2 separate regions of the Homo sapiens genome follow, and region 2 is linked to region 1. The links come from fine-mapping of genetic effects on plasma protein levels. A gene starts in region 1. The other region holds a variant in brackets. All regions are shown on one strand. Distances are from middle to middle.

Region 1 (9,744 bases):
CCATGCCCAGCTAATTTTTGTATTTTTAGTAGAGATGGGGTTTCACCATGTTGGCCAGGCTGGTCTCGAACTCCTGACCTCAGATGATCCACCTGCCTCAGCCTCCCAAAGTGTTGGGATTGCAGGTGTGAGCCACCACGCCTGGCCAATATACCTTCGTTTCTTGTTCTCTGCTCCTCCTGCCAGAGATCCCCACTATTTCCTATGGCAACCTTTCACTCCCCAGCATCCTTGCCTTTGCTATTTCCTTAGGGATGCCCCTGCCCAAGATGTATGAGTCCAAATCCTATACTACATCCTTTCAAATTCAGCTCACGTAGGTCCTGCTCTGCAAAGCTTTCTCTCTCTCACTGTTCTCATCTGCAAGCAGAAGTATGCTAGTTAAAAGAAAAAAAAAAAAAAAGAATCCCTGGTATGTAGCAATTGCGTTATTTCCATGGTGCAAATAATCCCAGAGGAACAGTTGCTAACTGTCAGCTCTTGTGAGCCTGTCAGCTGGTCCCGGCATGGCAAACCACAGTCCATGACCTGGAAGCATACCTTCCTGTTGTGAAATTCCTTAGCCATTCATGCGACCCTGTCCCACAGTGACCACTCACCACATTTTGCTATGAGTGATAGTCATTTCTGTGCAAGTCTGCACTCAACTCCAGAAAAGCATCCTCACACAGGGAAAATCATGGCTTAAAATTCCAGCCCTACACTCCCAGCTCTGTGACTGGTAACCCTGTTACTTACCAAGCCAAGTAACTGGTAACCCTGCCACCTACCAAGTGTTGGGACACTTATCAAATGTTCAGAGCCTCAGTTTCCTCATCTATTAATGACAGCAGCAATGTAAATCAGTACAGCCCTTAAGGAAGACCGTATAGAAGTTCCCAAAAAAATTAAACACACAACTACCTTATGAGCCAAAAATTCCACTTCTGGGTAATGTACCCAAAAGAACTGAAAGTGGGGTCTTAAAGAGATATTTGTACACCTGTGTTCACAGCAGCATTATTCACAATACCCAAAAGGTGGAAGCAAACTAGTTTTAGCTATTCCACCATCTATACATATATTAAAACCTCATATGATACATCATAAATATATACAATTTTTGTTGATTTAAAAATTAATTTAAAATTTTTTTTTTTTTTTTTTTTTTTAAAGAGCAGCAACAATGGCAACCCTGCCCCACAGGGCTGTTGCAAGAATTAAATGAGTGTGTTAGTAGTTTTCACACTGCTATAAAGAACTGCTGGAGACTAGCTAATTTATAAAGGAAAGAGGTTTAATGGACTCACAGTTCCGCATGGCTGGGGAGGCCTCAGGAAACTTACAATCATGGCAGAGGGTGAAGGGGAAGCAAGGACCTTCCTCATATGGCGGCAGGGGAGAGGAGAGAAATGCCGTGAAGGAGAAACTTCCAAACACTTTTAAAACCGGCCGGGTGTGGTGGCTCACACCTGTAATCCCAGCACATTGGGAGGCCAAGGCGGGTGGATTACCTGAGGTCAGGAGTTCAAGACCAGCCTGACCAACATGGTGAAACCCCATCTCTACTAAAAATACAAAAATTAGCCAGGCGTGGTGGCGGGCGCCTGTAATCCCAGCTACTTGGGAGGCTGAGGCAGGATGATCACTTGAACCCGGGAGGCAGAGGTTGCAGTAAGCTGAGATTGTGCCATTGCACTCCAGCCTGGGCAACAGAGTGAGACCCCGTCTCAAAAAAAAAAATGCCATTGGCTGTCATGAGAACTCCCTTACCATCATGAGAACAGCATAGGGAAAACCACCTCCATGATCCAATCACCTCTCATCAGGTCCTTCCCTTGACATGTGGGGATTACAATTTGGGTGGGGACATAGAGCCAAACCATATCAATGAGGTAACAATGAAAGTGCATTGCATAACAGTCCCTGGCACATTGTAGAGGTTTATAAATGTTAATTTTCTCCACTCCTTAGGCTTTAAACACTTTAGAAGTCATATTACAATTCATTTTTTAATTACCCTGAGTGTCAAAAACACTACCTTTGTAACTTGTTCAAAAATATGTAATCGCTCAAAAATATTGTTGTTAACCTATCCACTGGAAATATGAGGGGGTTGACAGTAAGGGGAGGGAGCAGGGAGGGATGAGCCCAGAACCTGCGGGGGAAGTGGGGATGGGCTGGGAAGAAACAAGGGGGTCTGGGAAGAAACAAGAGAGGCAAGGAGCACAGGGAAATGGTGCTGCCTACGCCCAAGATCCCCGGAGGAGCTTGGAGGGTCTCTTTGGCATCTCCCTCCCTCAGGCCTTCTTACCTCCACTGGGTGCACACTTACTATTGCTTACTTTTTAATTCTGGCTGCGGCTGAGCAAGACACCAGTGTCCTGGGACACCAACCGCCTTCTGGGTGGCAATAATGACAGCAGCAGCTATTTCAACTGCAGCTGCTAACGGTATTTCCATATACTTAATCCCACAGGGCAGAAGTTGGCAGTAGTGTCCAGCAGCAGAAAAAAATGCTAACTGGGAATGCTGGGCTTAAGGAGTTTAGTACAGAAATGGCAAATACCCCACAATTTCTGACCTTTGTCGTCTAATAGGATACCTATCAACTAAACCCTACCTAAAACCTAAAATGCTTGAAATCCGCCTAGAAGCTTCAGTCTGATTTTGCCCATAGGTCAAATGTTAATGAACTATTATTTTCTTCCATTTCTGCTCCTCATCTTTAATCTAAAAACCACGGAGTCATGGAATGGGAAAGGCCTAGAGCTCCACTTGCTCTAGTTCTCTTTTCAAAAACCATAGCCAGAAAGCCACGAGGAAATGCAGACTTACAAACAAAATCGATTTGTTCCAAACTGGTGTGCTCTGGGGGCCTGGCCCCTCTGGGAACCCAGGACTCAGGCTCCCATGCCAGGTGTTTTGTCACTTGGCAGCCTCCTTGGACACGTCAGAGTCAGGGAGCTGGGCTTCTCGAAAGAAGTCCACTCCATCTATGGGCAGCATGCATAGCAGGGGCAATCCGCCTTAGCAAACCGCTCAGTGTTTCCTCCTAGTCAGGGATTCTCAACAGGTTTAGGGGAGGGGTAGGATGGAGGTAGGTTTTATCAGAATCACATCATTTGCACTATAGTTTGAAAGATGTAACATAAAGCTGCTGCTTTAGTACCAGCTGCCATATTTCCTTTTCTTGGAGGTTTCTAATAAATCTAAAGGAGGGTGATCTATTAAGTTTTGCAAAATGGCCTGAGGTTCCAAGAGGTAGGAGAGCCGCTGCTGACTTCAACTTCTCCGTATAGCTGAAGATGACCTCTTGAAGCCTGCAGATCCCAAATCCGGGATCTCTCTTAATGTGGCATCACACACATCTGTGTGTACCTGTCTTTTTTTCCTCCATGGGACCAGCTCTCTCCAGATCCAATGACAAGCTTCCGATTATCTGTGGATCTTCTGATACATCTCCTTGCTTGTAATCATCATTCAGTAAATGCTTTTTAAACACAGGTACCTCCTATGCAATCAGTACAGCACTCATAAAACAGATATACTCAACAAAAAGATTGAATGAAACACACACGACAACATGGTCAGGGTTTTTCTCTAGGCAGAGACAGCGCAATTTCATCTTTTCTTTTCCAAGTCTATCCTAAATTAATATACTTAGCACTGCTTTTTAAAATAATAATAAAAGACTATTATTAAAACAAAGGCACCCCAGTTGATCATAGCCAAGGAAAAAAAACGCAGCCAGTTTTTACTTCGGCAAGGTTTAGGGGATTTATCATTTTCGCTGCCGATATTCTAACTAAAAAAAGCCAACTAAACAGCCCAGAGAACGAGGCAACTTTCTGAGGCAGGCATTCAACTTCTAAGGCTCGGCCAAGTTTAGCAAATAAGTTTCGTTTCACTGCAACACCGGAATGCCCACCGCGTGCCCCCCTCCGGGCGGGGCTCGGAAACTGGCCACTGCAGTCGTGCCCTTGGGTTGGGGACGCACCTCAGCGAAACGAATCCAGCCGCACCTCCCGGCTGGCACCCGCGCGCTTTAACTCAGGGAAAACAGACCGGAACGCGCATGCGCCGCGGCGCGCCGCACCGCCCACCAGCCCTCCAGGTCACATTCTTCGAAAACCAAGGCAAGAAAGGCGGCAACTGCGCCTGCGGGTAGAGAAGCCGGAGGGGCGGGGGCGGAGCCGGAGGAAGGGGGTGGAGGCGCGCCTGCGCGGTGATCCCGCCAGCAGGAAGCAGGCGCGCGGGGGCGGGGGCGCGCGGCGGCAGGAGGCGGGGCTCTCGGGGCCGCTGCCGCCGCCGCCGCCGCGCATTGTGCAGCAGGCGGGCCCCCGCGCGGTAGGGCCCTGGACCCGCGCGGCTCCCGGGGATGGTGAGCAAGGCGCTGCTGCGCCTCGTGTCTGCCGTCAACCGCAGGAGGATGAAGCTGCTGCTGGGCATCGCCTTGCTGGCCTACGTCGCCTGTGAGTGCGCGCCCGCTGCCAGCTGGGGAGCCCCATTCATTCCCCGGCGCCGCGGTGGGCCGGGCGGCGGTGGTTCGGGGCCCCGAGGCGGCCCTGCAGCCCCGCGTTGCTCCCCGCCCCGGGCGGGGCCGGCGCTTTCTGCTCCCACCCCTTTCCACTCTTGCAGCAAAGCGGGCCAACTTGGGCGCACACCCCCTACCGCTTAGGCCCGGGCGCGGACCCCGGGCGGAGGGGCCCCTAGCAGTCCTCGGGCGGCCCCAGGTCTCTGCCTCCTGCCCGGGCGCGGGGGACTCGGCGGCGGCGCTGTCGTCCATGTCGCGCTGGGAGCCGGCGAGGGTCCCGGTCGGGGACTCCGGAGCGTGCCGCGTGGGGATACCCTTGGGGACAGCCGAGGTCGCGCCGCGGTGTCGGTTAAGTCGGATAAAAATACTGTGGCCATTGGCAGAGCCCCCGCTCCGACTGTTTGCTCCTCAGGAAAATTACTCAGCGTTTAACTCTTGGGGAGCCAAGTGTGGGCGGCTCCCCGGCCCGCGGCCGTGCCCAGGTGTCGGGGCGCACCGGCATCCCCATTCTAGGTTTTCCCCCGGGGCTCGGCGGCCGGGCGAAGCAGGCAGGCAGCTGGGTGGCCGGGCAGGGCGTGCCTGCAGCTTCTCTGTGCGCGGGTCCAGTTTCTGTCATCGCTCACAGCATGCTGCCTGGAGACAGGGCAGGAGGGGCACTTCGCAGGCAGGTGGTCGGCCCTCTGCTTGTTAGGGAAGTCAGAAACCGTCCTTTTAAAGATCTATTCGTTGGGAATGTTTTAATTGATGCTATTAATACGTTACCAAGTAGCAAAATTGGACTAGAAATAGCTCCCAGTGTGAGCTGCGTTTGAATGCTAGCCACCCAGACACACACTGAAATGAAATCACCTGCTAACCTGTTGGCGTTACCAAGATCTGATTCCAGAGGTGAGTGGGTACTTCACTTGTCTGAAGTGACTTCAGTTGAGCTCTAGGAAGGCAAGTATGAGTAGATCCAGCCTGTGTGCTACAGCCCAGCTGTTCAGGAGGTGGAGCTGGAAAACCCCAGCAGGACTCCGGGTTGCTAGGGGAGGTTTCAGGCGTCGGATGGGTGTTAGATGTGTGTAGTTTTGCAAGGGAGGAAGAACTAGTCTAAAGTGTGTGTGTGGTCAATCTTGAGTAAGAAAGCTGAGACCCAAGAGGAAAGACCATTTAAAGTTGAATAACTATTATTATGGCAGTAATACTACCTACATTTGTTGAGTGCTTAACTGTGTGAGTCATGATTCTTAGTGCCATTGTCTCAATCATTGAGCAACCCTGGGAAATCGGTACTATAATGATTCCTATTTTAGAGGTGAGGAAGTTAAGGCCAAGAGAGATTAGGAAATTTATGGATGATCACACAGATAGTAAGAGAAGGAGGGCCAAAATTTGAACCCAGAAAGGCCTGGGAGCAGGAGCTAGAACCCAGGTCTTCGAACAGCAGTTTCAATGTTTATTTTGGGGGTATTCTATAGTCGCTGCAAGGGTTTAGAATTAATAAAGTAGGGGATTTATGGAGCCATGGGAAGTTTTTTTTTTTTTTTTGAGACGGAGTCTCGCTCTGTTCAGCCCAGGCTGGAGTGCAGGGGCGCGATCTCGGCTCACTGCACGCTCCACCTCCCGGGTTCACGCCATTCTCCTGCCTCAGCCTCCCAAGTAACTGGGACTACAGGCACCCGCCACCACGCCCGGCTAATTTTTTGTATTTTTAGTAGAGACGGGGTTTCACCATGTTAGCCAGGATGGTCTCGATCTCCTGACCTCGTGATCCGCCTGCCTCGGCCTCCCAAAGTGCTGGGATTACAGGCGTAAGCCACCGCTCCCAGCAGGAAAGTTTTTTAACCAATCATTCATCTGACCAGGAAATCTTACCAAGTCCTTACTGTTGTCCCTGAATTTGGCACTAGGAGACACCATGGGGTGCTAAAACTTAACTGGTCTGTGCTGTGATGGTACAGACCCTATACCACATAGTGTAGCACGTTGATTCTCAGACTTAAGCATGCATCAGAATCAGTAGGGTTTTTTTTAAAAAACACAGACTGCTTGTCTCCCACCTCAAGTTTCTGATTCAGTTGGTCTGGGATGTGGCCTGAGAATCTGCATCACTAATAGGTTGTTCTGTATGCTGTTGCTGTGACCTGACACCACTTTGAGACCCACTGGCCAAGATGGTGAGGTGGGCATGAATTGGAAATGAAGGTTAAATTACAAACTGGTGTGAGGAAAAGGAATGCATGAGAACTATGCCAGGAACTCCTGAGTGAGAGCAATCAGGTACGTTTGTTTTGTTGAGGAATCAAAAGTGAGCTGAGAATGGACGGCTTATGTAGGAGTTAACAGGGAAGTCATAGGAGAGAGCGTGTTCTAGGAGGAGCAGTGTGTGCAGAGGTCCTGCGGCAGCCAAGAGCAGGCAGTATTCTAGGAATGCAAAGAAGGATGGTATTGTTGGAGTGTGAAAACAAAATTACAGCCATGAGGCTGCCCAGGCAGACAGGGGCCAGAGCAGGCAAGCAGGCAGGCAGGCCTGGGGTGCAGCCCACGACATGGTTGATTTTAGCTATGAGGGGTTTAACACAGGGTGGAGGCAGTGTTAATAAGGAGCAGGTATGCTAAGTCTGAGCCACTCTGCAGGGAAAAATGTTACAGGGCTTGTGATTGATAACACCGAAGGACACTGAAAATGTAGTCCCTCAACCGTGATGTCTGTGTTTTCTAATCTCTGCTTTTCCTAATTAGTAATCTTGCCCTCCCTGTTACAAGTAAAATCTCACCACTGTTTGAAAAAACTGTCCATACTTCCCAATTATATACACCCTCACTGTTAGCCAGCCTCCGTTGCAGAAATGCCCTCCCTGTTTCGGGAACAGAACTCAAGTTCTGTTAGCCTTTCTCCTTCTCCTCCTTACATCTTTCCCAAAGTCTTTGTTACCTACTCTGGCCCTGAGTCTCCTCCTTGATACCACATAACTCTTCTTCATGTCTTAGGGTTGACCACCTGCTAACTTGCATTGTACTTGAGTTCTTTCCCATTCATATGTTGGCTTTTTTTTCTCAATGAAATCCCGATTCTGAGGACAGGGATTGTGTCTTATGTGTTTCAGCCCTTGAAACATTTATAGCAGTGCTAATGGCTCATTGAAAGAACTCAGTTTCTGCCCTTTGTGCTGAATCAAAAATCAGGCCAACCTACTAGGTAGCTCCTGGGCAGACTGCTTGAATTACCTTTAACGTATTTTTTTTTAACATGCATATAGTGTAAAAAGTTAAATAGCTTCTGCAGGGCCAAACAGTATCCCCTGCCACCATTTCCCTCTCCCCAGAAGCAGGCACTTCATTTCTTTTTTTTTTTTTTTTGATACAGAGTTTCGCTTTTGTTGCCCAGGCTGGAGTGCAGTGGCGTGATTTCGGCTCACTGCAACCTTGGCCTCTTGGGTTCAAGCGATTCTCCTGCCTCAGCCTCCTGAGTAGCTGGGATTACAGGCATGCGCCACCACGCCCGGCTAATTTTGTATTTTTAGTAGAGACGGTTTCTCCATGTTGGTCAGGCTGGTCTCAAACTCCTGACCTCAGGTGATCTGCCTACCTCAGCCTCCCAAAGTGCTAGGATTGCAGGCGTGAGCCACCGCACCCAACCCCTAGGCATTTCACTTCTTTTAGTTGATTATTTTGGTATTTATCATTGTGCCATTGAATCACCTGGCTTCCTGATTTTTCAGTTGTAGATATTACCTAGTGACTTTGTTCTTTGGGAGATGATTTTTTTCTTCTCTTTGCCCCTGTACATGCTCTCCACCCTCCTATATAGATGTGGTATAATCTCACGGAGCTCATCATGCAGTGTTTACAAGCATGACTATGTAAATGCTGTTCCTAGTGAGTCATGTTGTAGGTTACTTTTTGTTTTCTCCAGCGAATAATTGGCTGGTGTTCTAATTTGCTTGCTTTCTATGTAGTATGACAGATCCAACTCCAAACTCTTTGCCAGTTGTCTGTCGCGTCTTCCCCCATGATGTTCATGAGCATCAGGATGCCCCTTGGTCAGCACCCCTTCCTGAAGAAGGGCCCCGGGGCCTTCTACTGCAACTTGTGGATACATCTGAGGGTCAGCTGCCAGCCTCACCACCTGCACCCACATCAGCCTGGACCTACCCACTGCAGGACTTCTGTTTCCTGACTTCCTCTTCCTGACTCCCTCTTGTTTCACTCCCTGGTTTGGATGTGATGGGAAGTGAATTCTGAGACTTTACCCATAAGTATATTTTCTGCCTTCATGTCTGATAGATTGATAGTGTAGAATTATAGAAAAAAAGTTCCTTTAGAATTTTTGAAGCATTGGTCCAATCCTTTTTGGCCTCCAGTATTGTTGAAGAATTTCAAGCCAGTCCTTCTCTTTCTGAAGATTGTAGCATCTTCCTTTCGGGTCTAGTTGTCAGTGCTCGCCACACATGTCCAGCCCCCTGTCCCCCAGGCTCTTGGTAGGATTGCCCTCCCTTCCTCACTCCCTGAGCTTGATGGCCTCACATGGTTGTTGTGCCAGTGGCCTGCCCAGGAGCTGAGCGGAAGTGCTACTTCCACTTCTGGGCCTGCACTTCGCTGCGAGTGTAAGTTGCTGCCAGAGTTTTCCTTCCCTCTAGTTAGGTTCTGAACTCAGCTTGACAATGATGATACTCAGCTTGCAGAACCCCCTCCCACCCATGCTATGACCCTGTTCGATTGAAATAAACTTGAAGAATAAATCTTGGTTGTTGTAGGCCTCTGAGGGCTTTTGGGCTGCTCATTGCTGTAGTTTAACAATGCCTGCCCTGACTGATACATCCGTGGTGTTCCAAGATCCACAGTGCTAGGCCTTGGTGTATTTTATCCAGCATGTTGGGCATTTTTTGTGCCCTGGCAATCCAGAAACACTTATTCTTCAGTTATGGGAATTTTCTTGAATTATTCTTTGGTGATTTTCTCCCCTCCCATTTTCTATTTCATCTCTTTCTGGGACTACTACTATTCTGATATAGGATTGCTGGACCAATCCTCTTATTTCCTATTTTCTACCATTTTAAGGTTGTTGCACTTTTGGGACGTCTCCTCATTTTTGTATTTAGACTCTTCTAGTGATTTTTTTACATTTTATTTTTGCCATACTTTTTCATGTATAAGAGTTCTTTTTTGTTCTGTGAACTTTTTTAAAAAACTAAAACATGGTCTTCATTTCATGGTATATTCTCTGGATTTTTAAAAAATTTGTT
Region 2 (9,744 bases), 37 kb before region 1:
CTAGGGTGGGGAAAAACCCTGCCCTAGTAAATTTGAGGTCAGACTGGCTCTCTGCTCTCGAATCCTGTTTTCTGTTGTTTAAGATGGTTATCAAGACAATATGTGCACCGCTGAACATAGACCCTTATCGGTAATTCTGCTTTTGCCCTTTGCCTTGTGATCTTTTTTTTTTTGCCCTTTGCCTTGTGATCTTTGTTGGACTGTTATCAGGAGTTTCTGATTTTGCCCTTGTCCTGTTTCCTCAGAAGGATGTGATCTTTGTTCTCCTTTTTGCCCTTTGAAGCATGTGATCTTGCGACTTGCTCCCTGTTCTTGCACCCCCTCCCCTTTTGAAACCCTTAATAAAAACCCTCTGGTTTTGCGGCTCAGGAGGGTATCATGGTCCTACCAATATGTAATGTCACCCCCAGAGGCCCAGCTGTAAAATTCCTCTCTTTGTATTCTTTCTCTTTATTTCTTAGCCAGCCAACACTTATGGAAAATAGAAAGAACCTACATTGAAATATTGGGGGTGGGTTCCCCTGATACCCGAGTAGCTGGGACTACAGCTACCCACCACCATGCCTGGCTAATTTTTTGTATTTTTAGTAGAGACAGGGTTTCACCGTGTTAGCCAGGATGATCTCGATCTCCTGACCTCGTGATCCACCCGCCTTTGCCTGCCAAAGTGCTGGGATTACAGGCATGAGCCACTGCACCCGGCCTTCTCTTGCTGTTTTTAGGATTCTTTATCTTTGACCTTTGGGAGTTTGATTATTAAATGTCTTGAGGTAGTCTTCTTTGGGTTACATCAGCTTGGTGTTCTATAACCTTATTGTACTTGAATATTGAGATATTTCTCTAGGTTTGGGAAGTTCTCTGATATTATCCTTTTGAATAAACTAACCTTATCTTTATCTCTGCCTCCTCTTTAAGGCCAACAACTCTTAGATTTGTCCTTTTGAGGCTCTTTTCTAGATCTTATAGATGTGCTTCATTGTGTTTTTTTACTTTTTTCTTGTGTCTCCTCTGACTGTGTATTTTCAAATAGCCTGTCTTCCTGTCTTCAAGCTCACTAATTCTATCTTCTGATTCATCAATTCTGCTTTTAAGAAACTCTGATGCATCCTTTAGAATGCCAATTATATTTTTCTACTCTAGAGTTTATGCTTATTTTAAATTATTTGAATCTCTTTGTTAAATTTATATCATAGAATTCTGAATTCTTTCTCTTTGTTATCTTGAATTTGTTTTAGTTTTCTCAAAATGGCTGTTTTGAATTCTCTATCTCAAAGGTCATATATCTCTATTTCTCCAGATTGGTCCCTGGTGCCTTATGTAGTTCATTTAGTAGGGTCATGTTTCTGGATGGTGTTGAGGCTTGTAGATGTTCTTTGCTGTCTGGGCATTGAAGAGTTGGGTATTTATTGTAGTCTTCACAGTCTGGGCTTGTTTGTGCCTATCCTTCTTGGGAAGGCTTTCTAGCTATTTGAAGGGCCTTGGGCCTCCAGCCCTATGATGCTGTTGTTTTTGTAGACTAGTAGAATAGAAGTATTGCGTTGGTGGTCTTGGATGAGATCCAGAATTATCTGGATTATCAGGCAGAGACTCATTCTTTTTCCTTTTTTTTGTCCCAAACATGCAGAGTCTCTCTGTGCTGAGCCACCTAGAACTGAAGGTGTGGTGATGCAAGCACTCCTGTGATCACCACTACTGAGACTGCACCGGGTCAGACATGAAGCCATTGCAGCACTGGACCTTGCCTAAGACCCTTCCCTTCAGGGTGGCAAGTTCCCCCAAACCCTGGGCATGTCCAGAGATGCTATCTGGGAGCCAGGGATTGGAGTAAAAAATCTTAGCAATTTACCTGATGTTCTATTCTACTGAGGTTAAGCTGGCATTCAAGCCACAATACAAAGTCCTTCCCACTTTAGTCTCCTCATTTCATAGGCAGAGAAGCCCCTCCCTGTAGCCACCACCACCACTGGTTAAGCAAATCATCAATGTTTGCTTAAAGCCCAAGGCTCTTCCATCAGCACACGATGCATGCTGCCAGACCTGGGACTCACCCATCAGGTCGGTGTGCTCCCCTCTGTCCCAGGCCCACTCTAGCAATGCTGTACAAGAACTTAGGCCTGGACTTAGGGATCCCAAGAGCCTGCTTGTTGCTCTACTCCAGTATGGCCAAGCTGGTACCTAGGGTGCAAGACAAACTCCCCTTTACTTTTCCCTCTGTTTTTCTCAAACTGAAGGAGTCTTTCACCATAGCCACCACAGCTTGGAAAATGCTGGCTCTCCCCTGAAGCTAGTGCAACTCAGAGCCCAAGATGCACAGTGTACTTCCCTGTATCACTAATGGTTATTCAGGGCCCAAGGGCTCTTTATTCAGCAAGTGATGAATCCTGCCAGGAATAGGTTCTTCCCTTCAAGGAAGTAGGTTTCCTTTTGGCCCAGGGTGTGTCTACAAATGTTATCTGGGAGCTAGGACCTGGAAAGGGGTCCTCACAATTGTGCCTGGTGCCCTATCCTACTGTGGCTGAGCTGGTATTCAGGATGCAAGACAAAGTCCTCTTTACTTTTTGCTCCCCTTTCTTTAAGCAGAAGGAAAGGGTCACTTTTATTGCTATAAGCTGCACTGCCTAGGGTTGGGGGAGGGATGGTGCAGGTCCTCCCTTAGCCATGTCAGCTGGTGTCTCTCTAGGCCACATGCCACCCTAGTTCACTGGCTCTAAGCCCAGCCTAGCACTAGGAGTTGCCTAGGGATTGTAGTCCTTGTGTCCTAGTCTGCCTTTCAAGCCAGCACATGGTGGCAAGGCTTGCTGACAAACGCAAGCTCTAACTGCTGGGATGGATGACTCCTCTCTGGCTATGGCTGGTCCACATGCTCCCTCTGTGCACAGGCACTGGCTGAGCCTGGCAAGGCTTTATTTTCCACCATGACAGGAGGGCACTGAGTTCAATGTAAAGTCCTCCAGTTGCTGTGCTCTCCCTCCCCAATGTGCACAGATTCTCTCTCTCACTCTGCCTCTGCACAGCTGCTGCTAGGGGTGGGGTGGGGTGGTGTCAGCGAGTCGAGAATAACTCTCCTGCCTTCCTCGATGCCTCTTTCCATGATTGCTCACCTGATATTTGGTTCTTGTGATTGTGCTTTTCTGTGTACAGATAGCTGTTAAAATTTTGTGTTCTAAGGCTGGGCACGGTGGCTCATGCCTGTAATCCCAGCACTTTGGGGGGCCTAGGTGGGTGGATCACCTGAGGTCGGGAGTTCAAGGCCAGCCTGACCAACATGGAGAAACCCCATCTCTAATTAAAAATACAAAATTAGCTAGGCGTGGTAGCGCATGCCTGTAATCCCAGCTACTTGGCAGGCTGAGGCAGGAGAATCACTTGAACCCAGGAGGCAGAGGTTGCAGTGAGCTGAGATGGAGCCATTGCACTCCAACCTGGGCAACAAGAGAGAAACTCAGTCTCAAAAAAAAAAAAAAAAAAAAAAATTTGTGTTCCAGCAGGGAGGACACACAGGAAAAGATGCTTAACATCATCAGTCATTAGGGAAATGCAACTCTAATGCTCTGTGAGATGCCACTTCACCTGCACGAAGATAGATATAATTTAAAAAATAAAGAAAATTTGTGTTTTGGAAAGGATGTGGAGAAATTGGAACTGTCATCTATTGCTGGTGGGAATGTAAAATGGTGAAGCTGCTGTGAAAATATTTGTTGGTTTATCAAATAGATAGATATAGAACTACCATATTCCACTCTAGGTAGATATCCAAAAGAACTAAAAACAGGTCTGAGAGTAGATATCTGTGCACTGGCTGGGTGTGGTGGCTCACACCTGTAATCCCAGCACTTTGGGAGGCCAAGGCAGGCATATCGCTTGAGGCCAGGAATTTGGGACCAGCCTGGCCAACATGGCAAAACACCTTCTCTACTAAAATATAAAAATTAGCTGGGCATGGTGGTGCAGTAGCTGTAGTCCCAGCTACTCAGGAGGCTGAAGCAGGAGAGTCACTTGGACTGGGGAGGTGGGGGTTGCAGTAAGCCAAGATTGCACTACTGCACTCCAGCCTGCGTGACAGAGGTAGACTCTGTCTCAAAAAAAACAAAAAAAAAAAGGAAAAAAAAGGTATCTGTACACTAATGTTGATAGAAACATTGTTTACAATAGCCAGAAGTTGGAAACAATCAAAGTATCCATCGACAGATGAATGTTTGAGCAAAATGTGGTATATACATGCAGTTACACTATTCAGCCATAAAGAGGAATTGAAGTTTGACATATGCTATATACTGAATGAACTTTTGAAAACATTATGCTTTGTAAAATAAACCAGACACAGGACAAATCTTGTATGATTCTTCTTAGATGAGGTATTTTAAGTGGGCAAATTTAGACACAGAGAGTAAACTAGATGTTAGGGGCTGGGAAGAGGGAAGAGGAGGGGATTATTAGCTAATGGGCACAAAGTTTAGGGACTATGAAAAAGTTTCAAGTATAGACAATGGCGATAGTTATACCATATTGTGATTGTGTTTAATGCTATTCAATTACAAATGGTTAAAATAAACAATTGCCTGGGTGTGGTGGCTCATGCCTGTAATGCCAGCACTTTGGGAGGCCAAGGCAGGCCCATCATTTGAGGTCAGGAGTTTGACATCAGCCTGGCCAACATGGTGAAACCCC[G/A]TCTCTACTAAAAATACAAAAATTAACTGGCGTGGTGGTGGATGCCTGTAATCCCAACTACTCGGGAGGCGGAGGCAGGAGACTCTCTAGAACCTGGGAAGCAGAGGTTGCAGTGAACAGAGATTGTGCCATTGCACTCCAGCCTGGGTGACAGAGTGAGACTCCATCTCAAAAAATAAAAAAAAAATAAAAAAATAAAAAGATAATAGGTTATATATATTTTACCACAGTAAAAATAGAAAAATAAAATATAAAAATTATGATATTAATGAAACAATTAAAAATTTGATCCTGGTGAAAATAGTTTATAATATTAAAGAATTATTATTGATATTTTTAGTTGTCATGGTTATTGAGAATCCTTATTTAAAGATACAAAAGTATTTACAAATGAAATGATATATATGAGATTAGCTTCAAAATAATAGGAGAGGGAAGAAAGTGGGTGGGAATAGTCAGAGGAAATGATTGGTCACAGTTCATAATTGTTAAAGCTGGGTGACGGGTACATGTGTGCTCCTCATGCTTTTCGGTCAACTTTACATTTGTAAATTTTCCTAATAAAATAAGGTCACATGCTTTATTATTTAAAAAGTAAAAGCAAAAATATACCATGCTAATACAAATAAAAAGAAAGCTGGAGCAGATACATTAATTTTGGACAAAAAGATTTCAGAAAAAGAAAAACTATTTAAAGAGGGACCTTAGATAATGATAAAGTGATCACTTCACTTAGAAGACACAACAGTCTTTAATGTGTATTTGAGTAACAACAAAGCATCAAAATATAACTGCAAGGGGAAGTAGATGAATCCGTTATAACAGGTGGAGGCTTCCCCATCCCTCTCAGAAATGGACAGATCCAGCAGGCATAAAATCAGTAAGGATATAGTTCAACTGAGCAGCACCATCAATTAAATGAATCTAATTGACATCTAGAGACTTCTTCATCCAAGAGCAGGTTACATATTCTCCTCCAGCTCACATGAAATATTCCCCAAGGTAGACCATATTCTGGGCCATAAAACACACTTCCACAAATATAAAAGAATAGAATAAAATAGAAATCATACAATGTATGAAACATTTTCATTAAAGATATTAATAAAATTGATAAATCTTTAGTCAGGCTAATCAAGAAAAAAGAATAAAGACACAAATGACTAATATCAGAATAAAAGAGGAGTGATCACTACTGACCTCATGAATGTTTAAATGACTTTTAAAGAATAATAAAGGAATATTTTGAACAACTCTATGCCTATAAATTGGATAACCTAGGTAAAATAGACTAATTTCTTGAAAGAATCATCCAAGGATGATCTGAAAAGTCTACATTTATTTTAAAAATTGAATCACTAATTAATAATCTTCTAGAACAGAAAGTACCAGGTGCAGCTGGTGTCACTGTTACATTTTATCAAACATTTAAGTAAAAAATTGTACCAGTTCTCTATAATCTCTTCCAGAAAATAGAAGCAGAAGAAACACCTCTTAACTCATTCTATGAGGCCAACATTACCCTAATGCCAAAAACAGATAAACACATTACATAAAAAGAAAACTACAAACTAATGTCTTTCATGAACACAGAAGAAAAAATCCTCAACAAAATGGTAGTAACAAACCTAACAAAGTTTGAAAAAAGATATATACACCATGACCAAGTGGGACTTATTCCAGATATACAAGCCTGTGTTAACATTTGGAAATCAGTTAATCTAACTAATTACATCAACAGAATAACAATGAAAGTCATGATTATATCAATAGATGCAGAAAAGATATTTGACAAAATCCAATACCCATTTATGATAGCTGTCAGCAAATCAGGAATGGGGGGAACATGGTCAACTTGGTAAAAAGCAACTATAAAAACCCTAAAGATGGCCTGGCGCAATGGCCCACACCTGTAATTCCAGCACTTCGGGAGGCCAAGGCAGGCAGATCACTTGAGATCAGGAGTTCGAGACCAGCCTGGCCAACATGGCAAAACCCCGTGTCTACTAAAACTACAAATAATTAGCTGGGAGTGGTGGTAGGCGCCTGTAATCCCAGCTACTTGGGAGGCTGAGGCTGGAGAATCACTTGAACCCAGGAGGCAGAGGTTGCAGTGAGCTGAGATTGTGTCACTGCACTCCAGCCTGGGCGACAGAGCAAAACTCTGTCTCAAAAAACTAAAAAATAAAAAACCCTAAAGCTATCATCATACTTGATGAGAAACCAGATGCTTTCACCCTAAGATTAGAACAAAGGAAATGTATCCCCTCTCCCCACTCCTATTCAGCACTGTACTGGAAGTTTTAGCTAGAAAAATAAGATAAAAAGAGGAAATAAAGGTGTATTGATTAAGAAGAACAAAAAACCTGTTTCTTCACAGATGACATGATTGTCTATGTAGAAAATCCCAGAGTACTGACAAAAGTACTTCTGGAACTGTTAAGTGATTACAGTAAGGATGCAGATTACAAGGTTATATACAAAAGATATATACAAAAGTCAATTGCTTTCTATATAACACCAATGAACAATTAAAATTTAAAATGTAAAACACAATTCCACAAAAAAGAAGTACTTAAAAATAAATCTTGAAAAAATACAAGATATATATGGGGAAAACTACAAAACTGATAAAAAAAAAAAAGATTTGAATAGAGAAGTATTCCATGTTCATAAATAGGTAGATCCAATATCGTTAGGATGTCAGTTATTCCCAACTTAATCTGTAGATCAAATGCAATCCTAATAAAAATCTCAGCAAGTTGTTTTGTGGATATTAACAAATTGATTCTAAAGTTTATATAAAGAGGCAAAATACCCAGAATAGCCAACACGGTATTAAAGGAGAATGAAGTCAGAGTACTGACACCATCTGATTTCAAGACTTACTCACTTATAAGTGAGAACATAACGCTAGAACAATCAGGACAATGTGGTATTAGCAGAAGATTAGATGAATAGGCCAATCGAATAGAATTGAAAGCCTAAAAACAGATGCCCACAGGTATAGTCAACTGATATTTGCAAAGGAGCAAAGACAATTTAATACAGAAACAAATGATGCTGGAATGATTGGACACCTACATTTAAAAAAATCTAGCCAGGCATGGTGGCTCACACCTGTAATCCCAATGCTTTGGGAGGCGGAGATGGGAGAATCACTTGAACTCAGGAGGTCAAGACCAGCCTGTACAACATAGAGAGACCCCCCTCTCTACAAAAAATTAAAAAATTGGCTGGGTGTGGCCGCAAGTGCCTGTAGTCTCAGCTACTTGGGAAGCTGAAGTGGGAGGATGGCTTGAACCTGGGAGGCCGAGGCTGCAATAAGCCATGATTGCATCACTGCACTACAGCTTGGGTGGCAGAGCAAGACCCCATCTCAAAGAATAATAAAAATCCTCATGCCTGTAATTCCAGCACTTTGGGAGGCCGAGGCAGGTGGATCATGAGGTCAGGAGTTCCAGACCATCCTGGCCAACATGGTGAAACCCTGTCTTTACTAAAACTATAAAAAATTAGCTGGGCATAGTGGTGGACACCTGTAATCCCAGCTACTAGGGAGGCTGAGGCAGGAGAATTGCTCGAATCCAGACGGCGGAGGTTGCAGTGAGCCAAGATTGCACCATTGCACTCCAGCCTGGGTGACAGAGTGGGACTCTGTCTCAAAAAAAAAAAAAAAAAAAAATATATATATATATATATATAGTAATAAAAATCTAGACATAGACCTTAAACCTTTTACAAAAATTAACTCAAAATGAATCATTGACTTCACGTAAAATGAAAAACCATAAAACTTTAAAAATATAACATAGAAGAAAATCTAGGTAATCATGGGTTTGGCTGTGACTTTTTAGATATGAAACCAAAAGCAATATCCGTAAAAGAAAAATCAATAGTGGGACTTCGCTAAAAATAACAATTCGTGTTCTGTGAAAGACATTATTAAGAGAATGAGAAGACAAGCCACAGGCTGAGAGAAAATATTTACAAAGATATATATGATAAAGGACTGTTATCCGAAATATACAAATAACTCTTTTTTCTTTTCTTTTTTTTTGCAACTTTTAGTTTTGATTCAGGGGATATTTGTGCAGGTTTGCTACCTGGGTATATTGTGTGATGCTCAGGTTTGGGGTATGAATGATCCTGTCACTCAGGTGTCAAGCATAGTACCCAATAGTTTTTCAACCCTTGCCACCTCCCATCCTCCCCCCTTTACTAGTCCCCAGTGTCTATTGTTGCCATCTTTATGTCCATGAGTACCCAGTGTTTAGCTCCCACTTACAAGTGAGAACATGTGGCATCTGATTTTCTGTTCCTGGGTTTATTCACTTAGGATGATGGACTGCAGCTGCATCCATGCTGTTGCAGAGCATAGGATTTTGTTCCTTTTTATGGCTGCATAGTATTCCATGGTATATCTGTACCATGTATTCTTTATCAAATCCACCATTGATGGGCACCTAAGTTGATTCTATGTCTTTGCTATTGTGAATAGTGCTGTGATGAACATGTGAGTCCATGTGTCTTTTTGGTAGAACAATTTTTCTTTTGGATATATACCTAATAATGGGATTTCTGGGTTGAATGCTAGTTCTGTTTTAAGTTATTTGAGAAATCTCCAAATTGCTTTCCACAGTGGCTGAGCTAATTTACATTCCCACCAACAGTATATAAGCATTCTCTTTTCTCCAGTCTTGCTGGCATCTGTTGTTTTTTGACTTTGTAATAATAGCCATTCTTACTAGTGTGAGATGATTTTTCATTGTGGTTTTGATTGGCATTTCTCTGATGAATTAGTATGTTGAGCATCTTTTCATGTTTCTTGGGCACTTATATGTCTTCTTTTGAGAAATGTCTTTTTCGCTTGTTGATTTGTTTACATTCCTTATAGATTCTGGATGGTAGACCTTTGTCAGATGTGTAGTTTGTGAATAGTTTCTCCCATTCTGTAGGCTGTTTACTCCAAATTATATAAAGAATTCTTAACAGTCAATAATAATAAAATTAATGATCTAATTAACAAGCAAGAGATCTGAATAGATATCTCACCAAAGTAGATATACGAATGGC

Alleles and levels. Alleles are on the strand shown, and positions count from the first base shown. The strength of an association depends on the size of the effect and on how common the allele is.
As copies of G replace A in region 2, the plasma level of the protein whose gene starts at base 4,301 in region 1 goes down (weak association).

What was found. A credible set is the group of variants that fine-mapping cannot tell apart. PIP is the posterior inclusion probability: the model's chance that the variant is causal. Protein levels are from antibody-based Olink assays in UK Biobank. Linkage for the fine-mapping came from a reference panel and not from the study's own genotypes, which makes the PIPs less certain.
Region 2: its variant is the best candidate, but not a certain one, in a credible set for the plasma level of the UXS1 protein (UK Biobank, PIP 0.64).

Annotation. Positions count from the first base shown.
Region 1 is chr2:106,188,858-106,198,601 of GRCh38, reverse strand. It overlaps UXS1 (UDP-glucuronate decarboxylase 1), which reads left to right and starts at 4,301. Exons shown (of 15, transcript NM_001253875.2): 1 at 4,301-4,454. The coding sequence starts at 4,361. RefSeq lists a silencer at 4,219-4,828 and an enhancer at 5,159-5,208.
Region 2 is chr2:106,225,794-106,235,537 of GRCh38, reverse strand. No RefSeq gene overlaps it. Among named protein-coding and RNA genes, the nearest start is that of UXS1, 36 kb to the right of the region's middle. The variant G/A (reference allele first, on the strand shown) is at 4,669.